3 separate regions of the Homo sapiens genome follow, and regions 1 and 3 are each linked to region 2. Evidence: fine-mapped expression QTL. A gene starts in region 2. Each other region holds a variant in brackets. All regions are shown on one strand. Distances are from middle to middle.

The links. PIP is the estimated chance that this variant, and not a neighbour inherited with it, causes the effect. A credible set is the group of variants that fine-mapping cannot tell apart.
Region 1: its variant is the best candidate, but not a certain one, in a credible set for the expression of PRKRA in whole blood (INTERVAL, PIP 0.58).
Region 3: its variant is the best candidate, but not a certain one, in a credible set for the expression of PRKRA in whole blood (TOPMed, PIP 0.61).

Annotation. Positions count from the first base shown.
Region 1 is chr2:178,103,000-178,109,427 of GRCh38, reverse strand. It overlaps a transcript of PDE11A not described here and the pseudogene CYCTP. Among named protein-coding and RNA genes, the nearest start is that of RBM45, 6.2 kb to the left of the region's middle. The variant T/C (reference allele first, on the strand shown) is at 3,691.
Region 2 is chr2:178,447,793-178,453,438 of GRCh38, reverse strand. PRKRA (protein activator of interferon induced protein kinase EIF2AK2) reads left to right here and starts at 2,264. Exons shown (of 8, transcript NM_003690.5): 1 at 2,264-2,473; 2 at 3,028-3,197. The coding sequence starts at 2,409. PJVK (pejvakin) reads right to left here and starts at 2,061. Exons shown (of 7, transcript NM_001042702.5): 1 at 1,670-2,061; 2 at 1-51. The coding sequence starts at 29. RefSeq lists a silencer at 1,992-2,771 and an enhancer at 2,534-3,108.
Region 3 is chr2:178,299,173-178,305,753 of GRCh38, reverse strand. The region is part of intron 2 of OSBPL6 (oxysterol binding protein like 6); the gene reads right to left. Among named protein-coding and RNA genes, the nearest start is that of OSBPL6, 110 kb to the right of the region's middle. The variant T/A (reference allele first, on the strand shown) is at 3,659.

The sequences.
Region 1 (6,428 bases), 340 kb after region 2:
CATCACTCAATGACCAAATTGTTATATTTCAAATCATAAAACCTTTGAACATGAATTACATGTAACTAAAACACCTAAAAATGTCTGAGGTTTAAAAGAATGATTTTTAGTTAGTCTGCTTAATAGAAGAAACCAGGTGCTGGGCATTTGCAGATTAAATTTTTTTCAAGGCTTTAGAACATGTAGCCTATAAAGCACTGTTATTAGAATGTGCACACATGTTTGTTTCACATGAAATTCAGATTTTTTTGAAACTTTTTCTCCCTCAAATCTTTTCTTTTTAAAAATGAGAGGTGATATTGTGACTAATTTTTGAAATGCCAGGAGCAAATAGTAAATTTTTGTCATTATTTTCCAAACTGAAGTACAATGAGGCTTACTTAGTTGGTGATATTAGTCTTCATATGTTACATCAATTAACTAAAAATATTTCGCCCTATTTGCAAATTTTTTATAGGTTTTAAAACTAAGACTTATTGGTGATCAATTAGTAGCTTTCAGATTGTTGTATATGAATATGATCCAGAGTTTCCATTTGACCCATCTGTAAGGCTACTGTCTACTGATAACGTAGGCAATTACTTAGTCTGACCTGTGGCAGGCACTCAAGAAATGGTAGTCTCCTTCTTGAGTTTGCATGCCTTTGAGTTTGAGAATAATATCTAACACCTGATTTTTTTTTTCACAGTATGCCTGCTCCTTTTGATTCAACTTGATGACATACATCTTTTAAATGTGTAGATCACAGGACAAAATTCATAGATACCACTTAGAATAGTTTCATTAAAGCATCTGGTGACTGTGGCTATTTAAATTAAAATTACTTAAAATTACCTAAAATTAAAATGAATTATAATGAAAATAATTAAAAATTCATTTCTTCAGTTGAATTAGCCAGTTTCCGACAGCTCAAGAGCTATCCACAGCTACTGGACAGCGGGCACGCAGAGCCAAGCACTGCACAGCAAGTACAAGGCTTTAAGCCTCTGCGAGAGGTGAGATCCCACGGGATCTGGGGGCCAATCAGCAGTGGGACCGGGTCCCGGCTTGCCATTGGCTGGCGATCACTGGTCGCGCGCGTCCGGCTGCGCTTGCAGCCCAGGGCGTGAGGTGCTCTTTCTGGATCGCCAGCCTCGAAGTTGAGGCGTGGACTCTGGCCAGGTGGCTGTTCCAGGTGACTGCTGGGAGCGGGGGCAAAGGGAGGAACCGCTGGCCGTTTTTAATGCCAATATTAAAAAGTGTTTCATTAGCATTTCTCTTTTTATGAAAAATAAGACATAGCAATGGTATGTACCCACCTATTCCTCTTTAAGCACTCTCAGTTGGGTAAAAAGTTGTAAGCATCTGCAGTGTTACAGATATTGTGTTCAACACAGGGTTGCCAAGTCACCCTTAAAAAGTAATTGTTGGCTTGGCATGGTGGCTTACGCCTCTAATCCCAGCATTTTGGGAAGCCGTGGCAGGCGGATCACGAGGTCAGGAGTTCAAGACCAGCCTGACCAACATGGTGAAACCCCGTCTCTACTAAAAATACAAAAATTATCCAGGCATAGTGGTGCATGCCTGTAATCCTAGCTACTCAGGAGGCTGAGGCAGGAGAATCACTTGAACCCGGGAAGCGGAGGTTGCAGTGAGCCGAGATCACACCACGGCACTCCGGCCTGGGCGACAGAGTGAGACTCCGTCTCAAAAAAAAAAAAAAAAAAGAAAAAAAAAGGAATTGTTAAACCTATAAGATTATAGATTGAATATTAATTCTTCTCCACTGCTCACCAATCTGTGACCGTAAACAAGTCACTTAATTTCTGTTTGCCTCGTTTTCTACATCTATAAAAATAGAGATGTTAATGGTATCCATCTTACAGGGCTGTTGTGAGAACTAAATGAGTTAATAATATATAAAGTGCTTAGAATATGCCTGTCACATACTAAGCACATACAAATGTTTGCTACTGTTACTCTATTTAATGTTGAAATTACTTCATTCTTGGAAGAATGACCATTTTCATACTAGATGCCACATCTTTGCCTATTTCAGTGAGATATTTCTTTTGAAATATGAAATGCTGATAGAGTGCCAAATGATTATAGGACAAAATGAATTCTTTTCATATTCTTCCTGTCCTTCTTAAGATATTCTATCCCTTGCTATCCTGCTCTTCCCTTCCTGCTATTACTGAATCTGTTGGTTTTAATGCACTTGGAAGAGGGTCATAGGTATTTGCACTGGCAGTATTCGTCTATGATTAGAGAGGGCAGAAGTAAACGTTTTAATTGTGATTAATGCTGGTAGTTTTAACAGTTATAATGGAAATATGTTACACGTGACTTTAATGTGAAATCTGTAGTTTATGAGTAAGGACAGTTTTTTGTTTGTTTTTAAATGTCTGGTTTCCTGAATTACTAGCAACATTTACTTAGTATAAAAATCAATATGATTTTTCTTTTCCTTTTTTTTTTTTTTTTTTTTGAGAGAGTCTTGCTTTGTCGCCCAGGCTGGAGTGCAGTGACACGATCTCGGCTCACTGCAACCTTCGCTTCCCGGGTTCAAGTGATTCTCTCACCTCAGCCTCCTGAGTAGGTGGGACTACAGGCATGCACCACCACACCCGGCTAATTTTTGTATTTTTAGTAGAGACAAGGTTTCACCATGTTGGCCAGGCTGGTCTCGAACTCCTGACCTCAGGTGATCCAACCACCTCGGCCTCCCAAAGTGCTGGGATTACAGGTGTGAGCTACCATGCCCAGCCTCAATCTGATTTTTCTGCTTTGTATAAAAATTGGAAATAAAGATTATCTAGTTAGTGCTTAGATGACTTTTTTATGATACAAGCTTTATGGTTATGGTGAATGTATTTTGTGAAAAGGCCAAAAATGTGCTTTTGTGAGTGAAGTTTTATCCTCTATGGTCTGTGCTCAAAGGCTCACTGAATTCTGAACCTATTTAGGTAATTAATAGAACTGATAATTGAATGCAGTACTCTGAGTGATGTTTGAAGTTTTAAAGTAAGCTTCTCTTGGATAAAGTAAGTTTTCTTACCCGGCTTTCCATGAAACCTGAACTATTGGTTAATAGCTTAGTTGTTTTTGGATACTGCCTAAAGAAAACTATCTTCCCTTTACTTGGATTGTTGACACTGTTATGGGTTTCCACATAGATTTAAAGAAGTTAGGGAGAGCTGGTTTTGCAGGTTGTTGTGTATAAAGCATTGGCCTTTCTTGGAGCAGTAACTAAGAATGTTTGTGTTATTCTGCCAATATTGAAGAATACAGATTGTTTAACCACAGTATGTTAAACAATTTATGAATTGTAGTTAAACAATAGGTTTCTTCAATATTGGCAGAATAACACAAACGTTTTCTGTTTCTATTGATAGATCAATATGTGCTTAGGACTCTACTCTCAAAGAATTTGGTATTTTCATGATGTCTGTAGTAGTAATTCTTTGTGTTCAAATCCATCCCAAACCCCATCTCCCTTGCACTCATTCTTCACAGAACACAAAAACAGAAAAATAGAACCCAGACAGCATATTCCTTACTATATTAAAGTACACTTTTTTTTTTTTGGACAGAAACCGCAAGTGTTTATTGCAGAAATCTGGCCAAGGTCCCAGTTGGCTGGGCAGGTGAGATAGGGAGGGGTGGAGGAAGTGATCTGGCCCAGGGGCTCAGAGCTGTGAGGTGATA[T/C]TGGGTGCCAGGCTGCAGGTGAGACCTATGCCATCAGGTTCCACATTCAGGGCCTTCATTATGCCATCCTGTACCACCATGGAGAACCTCCTGAGACATCGATAAAGTACAATTTTTTGATAGTTTGAACTTATTTTAATTTTTACATCATTTTAGATGGAGGAGGCATTTATTTAGTTATAGAATTTTTAACAGTCTCAACCAAAATATCTTTGTAAAAAATTTATTTTATATGTCTACCATCATACAGTAAGGTTTTTGTTTTTGTTTTTGTTTTTTGAGAGGGAGTCTCTCTCTGTCACCCAGGCTGGAGTGCAGTGGCGCAATCTCAGCTTACTGCAACCTCCGCCTCCCAGGTTCAAGCAATTCTCTGCTTCAACCTCCCGAGTAGCTGGGATTACAGGCGTCCGCCACCACACCCGGCTAATTTTTGTATTTTTAGTAGAGATGGGGTTTCACCATCTTGGCCGGGCTGATCTCGAACTCCTGACCTTGTGATTTGCCCGCCTTGGCCTCCCAAAGTGCTGGGATTACAGACATGAGCCACCGCACCCAACCCAGTAGGGTCTTTACTACTTAAAACTGTGTATTTTCCACTACATTAGTATTAAATGCATACTATTGCTGACTGAATTCAATAATGTTATTTCTGATTGCTTTCAGATAATGCTTGATCTAATCTGGTATCTATAGCTAAGAATGTAAAGTAAATGAGAAATTATGTTACATACAGGTTTCTATGGCTGCATTCTTTTCTGTATAATTTTTATTTTTACAGTTTGATTATTGTAGACATATAAATACTCATAGTAATATCATAGTTAAACACCTTTCCTATTTGTTCTATTCTTATTTTTAAATAAGGGGTTGCAAAATTAGACCTATATGTTTTACATCATCTTTTGCACATGCACTTTTTAGAAATGAAAAGGAATATAATTGACCTGGATAAATTAATATAATTCTTTGAAGGCTGAAGTAAAACCCGTTTGATACCAATAGCAGTTTCTGAAGTAGCTATGGCTAGAAACTTAAAATAAGCCTAATTAATGAGATGATTGTCTTTATGAAATTGGATGTTATAATATATCTGTGTTTTTGAGCACTCATACATTAAAGCTTGCATGCTTTAAAGGATATGTTTTTGTTTAACATCATCAGCATTCACTTCAGTCAAAATGATGGAATTCTTTTTTCTCCCCGGCTTTGAAAATCTAATATATATATTTTTTTGGTTTGTGGTTTTAATGTTCCATTGCAGAGCAACATGGGAGATGCTGAAGCAGGCAAGAAGACCTTTATTCAGAAATGTGCTCAGTGCCACACAGTGGAAAAAGGTGAAAATCACAAGACTGGTCCAAATCTCTGGGGCCTCTTTGGCTGAAAAACAGGAAAAGCACCAGGATTTTCTTATACAGAGGCAAACAAAAACAAAGGTAAAAACTAGCAGTTGTGGGAGAGAACCAGATACACTGTAGGAAAGAATAAAGCATATGATTTGGCATTATAATAATTTCCTAATTTGCAGCGTTAAAAATGGACCACTCTTTACATATTACTGAAATATGGATTTATATCATAAGACCTGCATTTGGATAACTGATCATCCTTTTAATCAGAAGAATTAAGAATCTTGTATGGCATAGGTTTTTGCCTATACAGGGTATTTGATTTTAGGTAATACATTTTTCTTGAAAAAGTATAAGCTAGATTTTTAAAAAATCATATTTTAGTGGTATAATGGCAGTAGTGATTCTATTTGTAGTATTGATTTTAGCAGAGTGGGAGAAATACTATATAGTTTGAAGCGTATATTCAGCATGTTTTTTTGTTTGTGGGAAGAGGGTAAAGTGAGACAGTATCTTAGGGTTAAGATCGAAGTGGTTGGAAAAGACTACACTATCTTTGCAAAGCAATTTGTCATTCCTGGATTAATCATATGGAGATTTATATGTGTACATCTATCTATCTATCTATCTGTCTAAGAATGGAAATTATAATATGATAATCCTGTTAAATATATATATGGTTTTATATATATATATCAGCTTTTTTGAGATTATATATATATATCACCTTTTTTCAAAATAGGGTATAACTCTATTTGAAACTTTTCTTGGGGCCTAGCATATCTTATAGGTTGGCATTTCAAGTCACTACTATTTGAAAAGGATTTTATTTTATTTTTTATTTCTTTTTATTATTTTTATTGAAGTGAAATTTATATAACATAATTAGACATTTTAAAGTGTACAATTCCGTAGCATTTAGTGCATTCATAATGCTGTAAAATCACCGCCTTTCCCTATTTTCAAAACTTTTTTATCACTCCAGAACAACTGCATCCATTAGGTAATCACTCTGCATTCCCCCTTAACCCTATTCCCTGGCAACCACTAATCTGCATTCTGTCTCTTTGGATTTGCCTATTGGATCATATAAAAGGAATCATATAATATGTGACCCTTTGTGTCTGACTTCTTTCACTTAGCATAATGTTTTCAAGGCCCATCTAAATTGTAGCATGTATCAGTACTTCATTCCTTCCCCCCCCACTGGAAATGTATATTTAACAACAACAACAACAAAATTACAACAAACAACCTGGAATACAACAGGTGGTACTGAGAAACTAAGTCTAATAATTTTTTATGGCAATCAACACTTCTTGTGATGCTTTTCATTCCTTTTTATGGGTGAAATTCTAGTTATGACCTCTAGCTACATAATTCCAATCT
Region 2 (5,646 bases):
ACAAAGCTCTTGGTAGCAGCAGCAAACATATTAAAATCAAAACGTCATCAACTGCAACCCCCAGATAAATCCATTTTTAAAGAGGAAAATCAGGCACAAAATTAAGCATTGCTTGTTTTTAAATATAATTATACATCTTAAAAATACAAAGCATGGTTTCACCAAGTAGTTTACCACTGTATAATTCCCTGCCTCTGCTCATGTGCTCAGGTAATGAATTATAGATCAACGGTGTAAAATGATATGCTAAGAGCATGTTTAACTTGGAATGGCAGGCTATAGCACTAAAATATACACAGAAAACTAATAACGTAAAAATATGACCAATGTCTATGATAAGGATCACAGTAGATAGTGATTTGCCACTGGCAATGGGCCAATTTTAAGGGAAGCATATAGTGCTGTGGGAAGCAATGCAATTTAGGCACTAACGATAGTCCCGGATACAATCTACAGTGGACCTAGTCCAAAGGGAATTCCTTCACAAGTCCACCACCGGAATTTTGGCAACACCAAAGTGCTGTTTTGAATCCTCATGGCATACAGCTCATTGATTGAGCATTTCATTCATTTTCCATCTTATATGCTTACAAAACTGTGTTTAATATTAAATATAAATTCACAGATATAAACAATTATATGCAAATCTTTATTTAAAAAATAAAGCCACATTACATATAAGTAACTATATAAACTATTACCTAGTGGTTTCTTACTCTGAAGTTGGGCACACAGACTCTCTCTCTTTGAAATGGAGTCCTGCTGCATCTTTTTGTTTCATTATTATCCCAGCTACTTAACCTTTAACAAGAGCTATATAAAGTTCTGGCCTGTTTTTAAGTAATTTTGTGGCAAAAAATGAATTTTACCTGAGTGCTGAAATGTTTTGCCATAGGTGTTATGCGGAGTTCATATATTGTGAAATACTGACTATGTAGCCCTTCCAATAAGATATCCATTAAAACAGTGATGGATAGTAATCTATATACATACATATATAGACGGAGAGGAAGAGAGAATAGGCTCTAATTAAAGCATCAGATGATATAATTTGATTAGATTCTGAACATCTTTCACTTGTTTCAAGCATCCAGGGCTTACATGCTAACAAAACAACAAATCGCTTTTTTTTTTTTTTTTTTTTTTGAGAGGGAGTCTGACTCTGTCGCCCAGGCTGGAGTGCAGTGGCGCGATCTCGGCTCACTGCAACATTTGCCTCCCGGGTTCAAGCGATTCTCCTGCTTTAGCCTCCCGAGTAGCTGGGATTACAGGCGCATGCCACCACGCCCGGCTAATTTTTGTATTTTTAGTAGAGACAGGGTTTCACCATGTTGGCCAGGCTGGTCTCGAACTGCTTACTTCAGGCGATCCGCCAGCCTCGGCCTCCTAAAGTGCTGGGATTACAGGCGTGAGCCACCGCGCCCGCCCATAAATCACTTTTAATAATATCCTTTCGTACGAATAGCATTGTGCAAGCAATCTTCCATAACACCGAGTAAGCACAGGGGAGCATTTCTGCTAGTGCCTAGCAAGCCCCTGGAGAAGCGACACGTCATCTAATGGCCCACCAAAGGTGCTGCATCCCAGGCAAACGCCATTACAACCGACTACCCAGGTCCCCGGAAAGGCCTTCGTTTACTCCTAACGTGTTTTGCTGGGATGCACTGACCCAGCGTTCCATCTCGCGACGAAAGCCCAGAAGACAAAGGAGCCCGCCCGGCGGGAGAGGAGCGGGTGTTTGGACGTCCCCGCGTGTTCCTAAACACAGGGCTCGGGGACCCGAAGAGCGCACCGCAGCCCCCTGGAGCGTATATATCCGGGGTCTCAAGCTTCAGGACCAGGCCCGGGAGACTCCCTGGAATTCTGCCTTCGTAATTTTAGAATCTTTTTCTTAAAGTGACCCAGCCCCCAATCCGTCCTCCCCACAAAGGCTTAACTTTAGGCCTCAACGACCCTAGACCCACGCCGGACAATCCCTCTAATCCCTCTCTCCCGGCAAGAAACGGCCTCCTGCTAAGGACAAAGAACTGCGGCCTAGGGGCCAGTTACTACAGGCTGGTCAGGGCCGGCAGGGGCGGGCGCGGAGAACCCCCGGGAGCCCAATGCCTGTGCCCACGCGGGAGCGGGGCGGAGCCGGGCGGGAAGGGGGCGGACCCTGGAAGGGACAGGGGCGGAGTTGGGCCGGGACGGAGGCCCGCAGAGGAGCAGCGAGGGGGCGTAGCCGGAGCTACGGCACCAAGGCTCCGCCCCCACCCTGCCTGCCCCCTCGCTGGAGCAACGCAAGCAGGAGGCGGGGGAGTCGGAGGAGGTGGCGGCGCTGGAGCTCCTCCCGGGGACCAGCGACCCGGGGAGCGAGCACGTCGCTCCGCACCGCTCTTCCTCCAGCCGCTGAGCCGTCCCTTCTCGCCATGTCCCAGAGCAGGCACCGCGCCGAGGCCCCGCCGCTGGAGCGCGAGGACAGTGGGACCTTCAGGTCAGCGTGCGGGCAGTCAGGGCCCCAGGGCCGGGAGCGTTGGGCGGCAGGGCCGGGGCGCGGGGAGCCGGCCCTCCAGAGGCATTCTGGGTAAAGCCGTGCCCGGCGCCCACGCCTCCGCGGCTGTGGGTGCTCGGCCCCGCCCTCTCGGCGGCGAGGGTTGGGGTCTGCGGCCGGGCCCCGCCCCTCTCGTGGTCCCTGGCGGCGCGCGGGGCGGGCGGAGGTGACGCTCGGTCGGCGCGCCCGGGAAGGGATCGTCAGGTTTTCCCTGAGAGGCTGCGGCGCTGCTGCCAGCCCTGTTCTGTTGAGAATCTCTCCTACCCGCATTCAAGTGCTCTCTCTAAAGACCTCGCTCACCCCGCCTGCTCCTGCGGAGTGACTGCCGCAGCGGGGCCGGAAGACAGGTGCGCCCCAGCCTCGCCAGCTCTGGCCCTGGCCTCCGGGGAACTCGGCGCCTCCCTCGTCACCGTCGGTGGCGGTTAAAACTGGCCTCTACGCTTCTGCTTCAATCTCCAATTTGGCATGCAAAGCACACCTTTTTGTGGTTTTTGCAGTTTGGGGAAGATGATAACAGCTAAGCCAGGGAAAACACCGATTCAGGTATTACACGAATACGGCATGAAGACCAAGAACATCCCAGTTTATGAATGTGAAAGATCTGATGTGCAAATACACGTGCCCACTTTCACCTTCAGAGTAACCGTTGGTGACATAACCTGCACAGGTCTGTATACACAGTTAACCTGGATGACCGAGTGGGTTGGCAGTCAATACTTGGTGTTGCTTTTCAGTTCGGAAAAGTTCTCTTTTTGCCAGACAGCTGTGAGGAACAGGCTCTGAAACTGAGACCTCTCATCTCAGGTCGTTAGGGCTTTTCAGCTGCATCTGATTCTCTTCCTAATTTTCTCTTCCCCACATACCAAGGAAGCTTAGAAACTAAAAAGTTACCCAGCCGGATGGCTGGATCCTGCATGGCTCTTCTCATACCCTAGGATCCTCCTAGGGTTCTTCTTAGAATTAGAGGGAAGCAGGAAAGGTTCTTGGAGCAGTCATAGCTGGGTCAGTAGGTACTGTGAAGTTTCATAGATTATAGCGGATGCCAGGAGGCATGACCCCAGAATTTTCTGAGCGTCTCTCCTCTCTGTATGGACTCATTTGGCACTTTAGGTCCATTGTGCTACTTTTGATTCTGTATCCAAACAAAATGAGGAAGGGGAGAAGGTCCTCATATATTACATAATAACTTCTAGTTTTTGAAACTGAACAGATATTTTGTATATTATCCACTTTTTAAACAAGAAGAAACAGGTTCAGAGAGATTATAAGTAACATGCGTATAGCAATGAAGTCACAAAGCAATGAAATTTTAAAGTTCATGCTTTCTTTTGGTCTGTGAGCTTGAGCAAATGATAACTAAAGTTGCTCATTTGTAAATGTGGACATTATTTTTCTTATGTATCTATTTAATTGCAAACACAGAAAACATTGGATGCTAAATTTAATTTGGAAGAATGCCAAGAAAAAAATTTAGTAGGAAGGCTCAAGTTCTACCATCTGGAAAATCTGAAGACAGCATTTGTTTGTGTCCCTGGAAGTTTGGAGTCTTTTATTTTAATTGATGCCACTTTAAGAAAAGTTTAAAACTTTTTGTGTGAGGCAGTTAGATTGTAGGTGCTGGCCGGAAGGGTCCCCATGGGAACCATAGAGTCAACACTGCATTACTTACTTTAGCTAGTCTATTTCTAGATAGGAAGAATTCAAGAAAAGGGAGGGTTTTTCCCTCTCAATGTGTTTTAGACCCCAAATTAACAACCTATGGCAACCGTTCTGCCTACGCCCTCTTCTCACACTACCATGGCTTCCTGTGCAAGCTTATCTGCCTCCATGGCTTCTGATACTGTCTAAAGACTAATATTCTGAAATGTCTGTCTACATCCCAAGCCCAGTTACAGAATAGTGTATCAGTCTGTGCTTGCTGAGCATCTTTGCCTGGATGACACAGAGGCCCCTCAAGCCTCTCATTGTCCCAAACTGAATCCATCTTTTCCCTCAAACCCATTCTTCTTGCATTCCCTTTCTATGTAAAGGCTCCACAATCACCTAGTTCAGTAGAAATGTAGGCTTTTGTCTTCCTAACTACTTCCCGTCTTTCTCCCTCTTGTCCAGTCTGTTATTAAACTCTATCCATTGGCGTTTAATAATCCACTAACTATCCATTGAATCTGTCGGCTTCTCTCTTCTGGCCATTGCTACTGCCTAGGCCACCATCATCTCTCACTTGGATTGTAGCTGCAGTCTTGTAGCTACACGTTTACCTTCTAGTCTTGTGATGTCCTTTTGTCACATTACAACCAGTGTTCATTCTTTTTTTTTTGAGACAGGGTCTCACTCTGTCACCCAGGCTAGAGTGCAGTGGCATGATCTTGGCTCACTGCAACCTCCGCTACAGCCTGCACTTAGGCTTGTTGTAACATATCCCATTCCATACTTCAGGTGCCTATTAACAGACAAAAATCCCACACTACTCTGTTGGCTCTTGAGGGCAGGGACCCTGTATGCTATATCCCTAATACCTGTGTTAGCAGATAAATATATGGTTTCTGTGTCTTCTTACACTTGAGGGCCACACTTGAAGGCCACACTTGAAACTTATTCCATGAGGGTATGGGAGTTTGAACTTAAAAGGAAAAAGATGGAATTTATCATTTGCCATTGTGATTGCTTACTGAAATTAGACATCAGTCTTATCCCCAGTCCCAACTTAGCTACCCATGCAGAAGATACAGACCGTCCAGAAGATACATAACAAGCTGTCACCTTATTCCATAAAACTCTTTCCTGTTGTACCCAACACATAATCATGACTGCTCAGCCTAGCAAAGCAGTTTGATACGTTATAGGACAGGCTGTCAGAATAAAATTATGCACATTTTGCTATCAAACAATTCTGCTGTAAATGGTTCCTTTAAAAGAAACTTCTTGCTGCAGAAGAATTTCCCCTCCAGGAATAAAGGAAGAGTAAAATACTAATCTGCATTTCTTCAGAGGTGTGACACGGTCTACTTTATTACCATGTTATATAATAAACATATATAATGTAGAAATAAGGATTTTTATGCAGGTATGCATAGAATTATATAGAACTTTAAAAAGTTATTTTTTAAAATTTTTTC
Region 3 (6,581 bases), 150 kb after region 2:
ATATTTGAGACCCTGATGCTAAAGACGCCAGATTCTCCTCCGGAAACGTAATCTCTCCTACCCAATGGACTAGAATAAGAGCTCGGTCCATGTTTGTCTTCAGTTTAGTTTAGCTATGTCATGTATGTGACGGTTAATCCAACACAAAGTAGTCAGTTACAAAAGAGTTAACACATTGTGTGCATCCTGTGATCCAGCATTTGTGAAGGATCCAGGAATACATATATCCACATTTATTTGTACCTCAAAACTACAGCATGCCTACATGTGACTCTCAACAACCAACATGCTCGCAAACATCTACAGATTGACAGGTTATCTTAGAGCAGGGGTAAATGGAGTTCCTTCACTTATGCACAGCCAACAGCCACTTCAATTTTTTTACTTGGATTCATGTAAGGAAGGTTTGCATTGTTAGTATTAAGGTTAAAGCTTGTGTCAGAGAGAAGCTCTTAAATTGGCCTTGTCTCCAACACAGCTATGCTAAAAAATGTTAAAAGGTAAGCACTATGGTATAACATTAAAAGCTTAAAAAATGATATTTCCCAAAAGATAGACAATTAAAGTGAACTTTATCCTCTTACAAGAAGAAGGTCACATTCTAGCCCCCATCTTAATGCTAATATCTTCTTGGAGGAAGTACAGAACACCAGAACACTTGTGTAGGCTTGTTAGCACAGGCTGGGAAGGAAAGCTGCTAGCAGGAAACAGAAATCAATTTTTAGGCCACAAAAAAGTGAGACCTGAACTTCAGTCCAGAGGGTGAGACACTGAATCAGATAAACAAAAAAAGATGGAGATATATGGGCATTATGAAGACAGTGACTGAGGTGAACTAATGGATCTGGGAGTTAGAGCTGAGGTCCAAAGAATGAGCGGTTTACTAAGTACCAGGGTGTCTGGCGTGACATGATCAACAGATGAGTGGTAGCCAATATGACTAGAGTCAGAGATATGGCGATATGGTGGTCAAAGAAATGCAGAGACCAGTCCCTGCAGGACCTTGTAGGCCATGACAGTTGCTATGGTCTGAATATGTGCACCAAAATTCATGTGTTAGAAACCTAACCCCAACGCAACAGTATTGGGAAGTGAGGCCTAATGGGAGGTGTTTAGGTCATGAGGGTGGAGCCCTTGTGACTAGGTTAGTGCCACTATATAAACAGCTTGTGATATGGTTTGGTTGTGTTCCCACCCACATCTCATCCTGAATTGTAGTTCCCATAATCCCCATATGTCATGGGAGGAACCAGATGAGAAGTAATTTGATCTTGGGGGCGGTTACCCTCATCCTGTCCTCATGAGAGGTCAGACCTGATGGTTTTGTAAGGGGCTTTCTCCTCTTTTGTTTGGCATTTCTCCTCGCTGCTGACATGTGAAGAAGGAAGTGTTTGCTTCCCCTTCTGCCATGATTATAAGTTTCCTAAGGCCTCCCCAGCCATGCAGAACCGTGAGTCAATTAAACCTCTTTCCTTTATAAATTAGGTGCTCTTGGGTATGTCTTTATTAGCAGCATGAGAATTGACTGATACAGCTTGTGGGAGTGGGTTCTCTCTCTTCTGCTTTCCTGCCATATGACGACATGAGGTTCCTCCTCTCCAGAGGATGCAGCATTTGAAGTGCCTCTTGGGAGCAGAGAGACAGGGCCCTAACCTGCTGGTGCCTTGATTTCCCAGCCTTCGGAACTGTGAGAAAGAAATTTATGTTCTTTATAACTTACCCAGTCTTGGGTATTCTGTTATAGAAGCACAAGTGGACTAAGACATTGGCATTTTGATTTTTATCATAAGCATGAGAAGCCATCGAGACGTAACCAGATTTGTGTTACTAAAGGGTGATTTTGGCAGCTGTGGGGAGACTCCAAGTGGGGAAGTAAAGAAGATGAGGAGGGCCCAATCAGGACTCAGGAGAGGATGGGAGAGTGCTGGCAGAAATTCCAACATTGAGTCCTGTGTCCTGTGACTGGACATGGTCGGGGAGGCAGGGTTGAGGCTAAATCTCAGGTCTCTGGCATTCTGAGCAAGAAATGGTCAAAGGAAATCCAAGATCCATGGGAAAGTCATGACTGTGGTTAGAGACATTGCTGAAGACATTCAGTTGGAGACAAACTCTTGGAAATGTAGGTCTGGAGCTCAGGGAAATCTAGGCTGGAGATGTAAATGTTTAATAGACTATGGTAATGATACAGATATATTAATCAGATCCTTTAAGATCATGTAAATTTCATATGTGCCAGTAAATGAAATTTTATATGGTCCTATAGTTATATTTTTAATAATGGATTATGTCACCCTGAATGTGTTATTCAGGATTTTAATGGTCACCTGTTTATAGAGAATACCTAAAAGAACAATCCCAATAATTACAGGGGGAATTTTTGTAAACTGTGAAAACTGGACATTCTAGTGAATAGAACTTGTAATCCAGTCTTAAAATTTCAACTTCACTGTCACCGCAGGAAAAATGAAAGCTACTTTCCCTCCAAACTGGGAGACTTTCTCTTGAAACAAAACTAGCCTTTGGACAAACAGAAATGGAAAGCGCTGTATATCTCTTCTGTGAGCTAGAGATAGTTTCATTCATTATTGGCAAAAGGTAGTAATAAACCTCCACTTGACAGATGATCATCTAATCTTTTTGTTTTATGAAGGCATTCTAATAAGTGAGTGAAGTTTCTGATTCCAAGCTGTGGTGCCAGCAAACAGAATGCACAGACACTGCTCGGATCCTTGATTTGAAGTACTTAGTTTTCTGGTCCCAGATGTTTTACAAGTAGATACTGACTCTTGAGCCAAAAAGGAGGTACTTTTGTGATGCGTTCAAGTGCTTCCAAGGGATGAGGTTGTAACAACCTAACTCATTAAACTGAAATCCATTTGGAAGTAAATTCAATCCAAGGTATATTTCCTCTGCTGGATTTTTTCATTTAAAAAACTGTACTTTTTTCATTAACATCAATGCTAACACCTTGATTTTTGTTTTAATTTAAAATGGCATTTTCAGGATAACTTGTTTATGATAAAAGGGCAACATTTCAGTTGAACTACAGTTTAAATATGTTGAATAATAGCAAAATGAAGAAAAAGTAAGAGAACTTAATTCATTCCAAGAATTGTTTTTGAGGTTATTGTTGTTGTTTCTATTAATTTTTGTTATTTTTTTTAACAGAAAGGGTTTCAAGTACTTAATATAAAGTTGAATGAGATGCCCTTTAAAGATTATTCCAACCAATTTTCAATCAAGTGTTTGACCACCTGCTCTTTTTCAAATGCATTATAAAAGTAAGTCTAAACTCTGAGAGAAGGTTATTCTTTAGAGTGTAGGAACTGCTATAACATAAAAAAAAGTCATCTCTACGAAAGAACATTTTCAGAAATTGCCTAAACAATATTCTAAACCAAAGAAAGGCCATAAATTTTAAAGTCAACACAACACCAACATAATTACTATACTCAATGAGAAACGTATTGTGACTGAAAATAACAGCAATATGAGAGAGCTGAACATCTAATTTTTCTGTCTCATTCTTCCTTTGTAACAGTGGGAACACTACAAGTATTGCTAAGTGCTGTAACATTTGCATTTTCATTGAGTGGCATAAATCTCAGATTTATGACCCAGGGACCTAATTAAAGCAAAAGCTGGTAGGGAAGACTTC[T/A]AGAACTTGCTGTTCAAAGGCATCATAAATTGTATGTGTCCAGAAAAACACTTAAGATTGGGGACCACTTGCCCTGGGCTAAGTTGCAATGAGTCACAACCAAGCCCCAAATGTCTTTCTCACAGTCCTGAAGGCTGATAAATCAAGGCACCAGTAGGTTAGGGCCCCGTCTCTCTGCTTCCAAGAGGCTTACAAGAAAGGTTTATTTTTAGCTCATTTACATGTCCTTTAGGTCAGCTGCAGACCTACCTTGAGTGCTCTTCATTCCAGGCTTAACAAACAGCCCCCAGGAGAGGCAGGGCAAAGAGCCATTGCAGAACCATGGGATGGTTCTTAGAGCTTTTGCTTGTAGGTGGTACAGGTTAGCTCACTCACGTTTTATTGGCCAAAACGAGTCACATGGCCTAGGTGAGTCAATGATGCATGAAACTATAGTTCTCCCAGTAGGCGAGGCAGTAGATATTTGGGTATAATGATAATTTACTATATAAACTATAGGAAAAGATTAAAAGTACAGTTGAAAATATTTAAATTGACTCCAGTTACATCACTGAGAGATAACCCTTGTTAACATTTTTGGTTCTACTTTAATCAAAGTAGAAGCATAATATTCACACTATCTGCAGTATGGTTTTTTGATCAACAATATATCACTAATGGCTTTTTTGATAAACAAAGAAACTTCAACAATACCATTCTTAACCATTACAAATAAGACTACCACACAGATATACCACAATACATTTAACCATTCTTCTTTTGGGACGTTTAGGTTGTACTCAGTATATTTTGGAACAATGAGATTTATCACAAAAGAGTCTGTAATAGTTATACATTTAGTCTTGATCATTATAAAAATGACCCTTTTCATTCCTTTTAACACTTTTTGTTTTGCTTTATCTGATATCATCTCTTCCCTTTCTGCTTGCAAGTGATTAAATAAACTTTGTCCATCCTTCCCATTTAAACTTCCTGTATATTTTATATTATGTGTCCCTCTAGTAATGATCAGGTTGAATTGTTCAAAAAATCTAATTTTAGTGAAGTATTTCCAATTTCTATTTAATGTTTTAACTAATAATTGATCTTACCCCTGCCATATCATTTTGTACTTTCTATTTTTTTGGTTCTTCTTTGTTTCCTTTAATGCTTGATGGCTTTGCTTGGTAATCTGGCTTTTGCAGCATACTGACTTTCATATGGTTTTAATAGCCTTTTATATTTGACAATAATTTGAAAGATATAATTCTCCTTTTAAAGTTCTATTTCCATTTCCCTTTACATTTCTCTAAATCACGCTGGAATCTACAGTCTGTAAGTGACAGTTAAGAGTAAAATGGGACTGGGTGTGGTAGCTCATGCCTGTAATCCCAGCATTTGGGAGGATAAGTAGGATCACTTGAGGCCAGTAGTTCAAGACCAGCCTGGCCAACATGGCGAAACCCTGTCTCTACTAAAACTACACAAATTAGCTGGGCATGGTGACACACGCCTGTGATCCCGGCTATTCGGGAGGCTGAGGCACAAGAATCACTTGAACCCAGGAGGTAGAGGTTGCAGTGACCTGAGATCATACCACTGCACTCCCACCTAGGTGACAGAGCGAGACCCTGTCCCCGCTGCCCCCGCTGTAAACAGACAAAAAAAGCAGACCTTCATCCTGCCTCCCTTACCCTCTCTATGGCAGATACATCTGACAGCAATAAGTTAAGCACACCCTGAGAGTGACCCTATGGTCTAAGAAGAATGTGTGTCCACAGTCCCAAGCAAAGGAATAATGGAGTGATCCACCTGGAGTGTCACTCCTTGTCTATGAGGAACATCTGAACCCCCTGCCCATCCCTTGGAACGCTGCCACTTTTTCTAATTGGGACCTACAGGGATCTCAAAGTGTGAGGACAAATTGTAAGAAAAGCCAACTCCTTTTCTGTAAGTGAAGATAAGGTTTGTCATAATCAAAACTTGGCTAGATTTTCCTCAATTTGAGATATATAGCTTTCATAAAATTAGGGTTTAGTCCTCTATAGTTTGACATTGTATTATTCTGTTTGAAGCTAGTGTTTGGGTTATTGACAGTTTGTCTTTTTAAATATTTGCGTAACTATTTACAGAGAATTTGGAGGAACCTCATTAGAAAATCCTAGATGCAAGTTTCCTGATTTCAACTCATCAAGCCTCTAATCTCTCTCCACTCTTCTTAGGCCCCTTACTAAGTAAATGAATAAGACAAACCCTCATCCTTGATGTGGACAGCCATCAAACCTGATGGGTGGGAAAAGGGAAAAGAAAGAATGAAGAAGGAATCATATCTTTTACTTTGTTTAGCTCTACATCTGAATTTTGTATCTGAAGTAAGTTTTACAGTGAACTAAATATTGTAAAACACTTATTACTCTCATATTGACACAATTTAATGTAATCGTTACCAAAATCATAACAGGATTTTTAATGACTTGGCAATATTATTTTAAAGTTCATCTGGGCTACTCTGGATGCACTGCTTATGGGTTAACTTTGCTCCACAAGGAGCGAAAGAAAGAATAGAAAGAAACAAAACAAAGAAAGGAAGGAAGGAAAGAAAGAAAAAAAGTAAGTTCATCTGGAAGAGTAAACATATGAGAATAACAAAGAATATTCTAAAAAATAATGAAAGATACTTTACTTATCACACACTAAAGCTATTTAACAGCTTCCCTGGTTAATAGTAGTAGTACAGGGCCAGGAAAAGCAAATGGAACAGACAAGAATTCTAGAAACTAGTCTATGCAACGACAAAAAGGATCTTAAAAATATCAGTAAGAATATTATTCAGTGCAAAAAAGATATGAGCTATCAAGGCCATGAAAAGACATGGAAAAACCTTAAATGCATAGTAAGTGATCATTTCACCAGTAATAATTTTCCAAGACTTGTCAGTCACTTT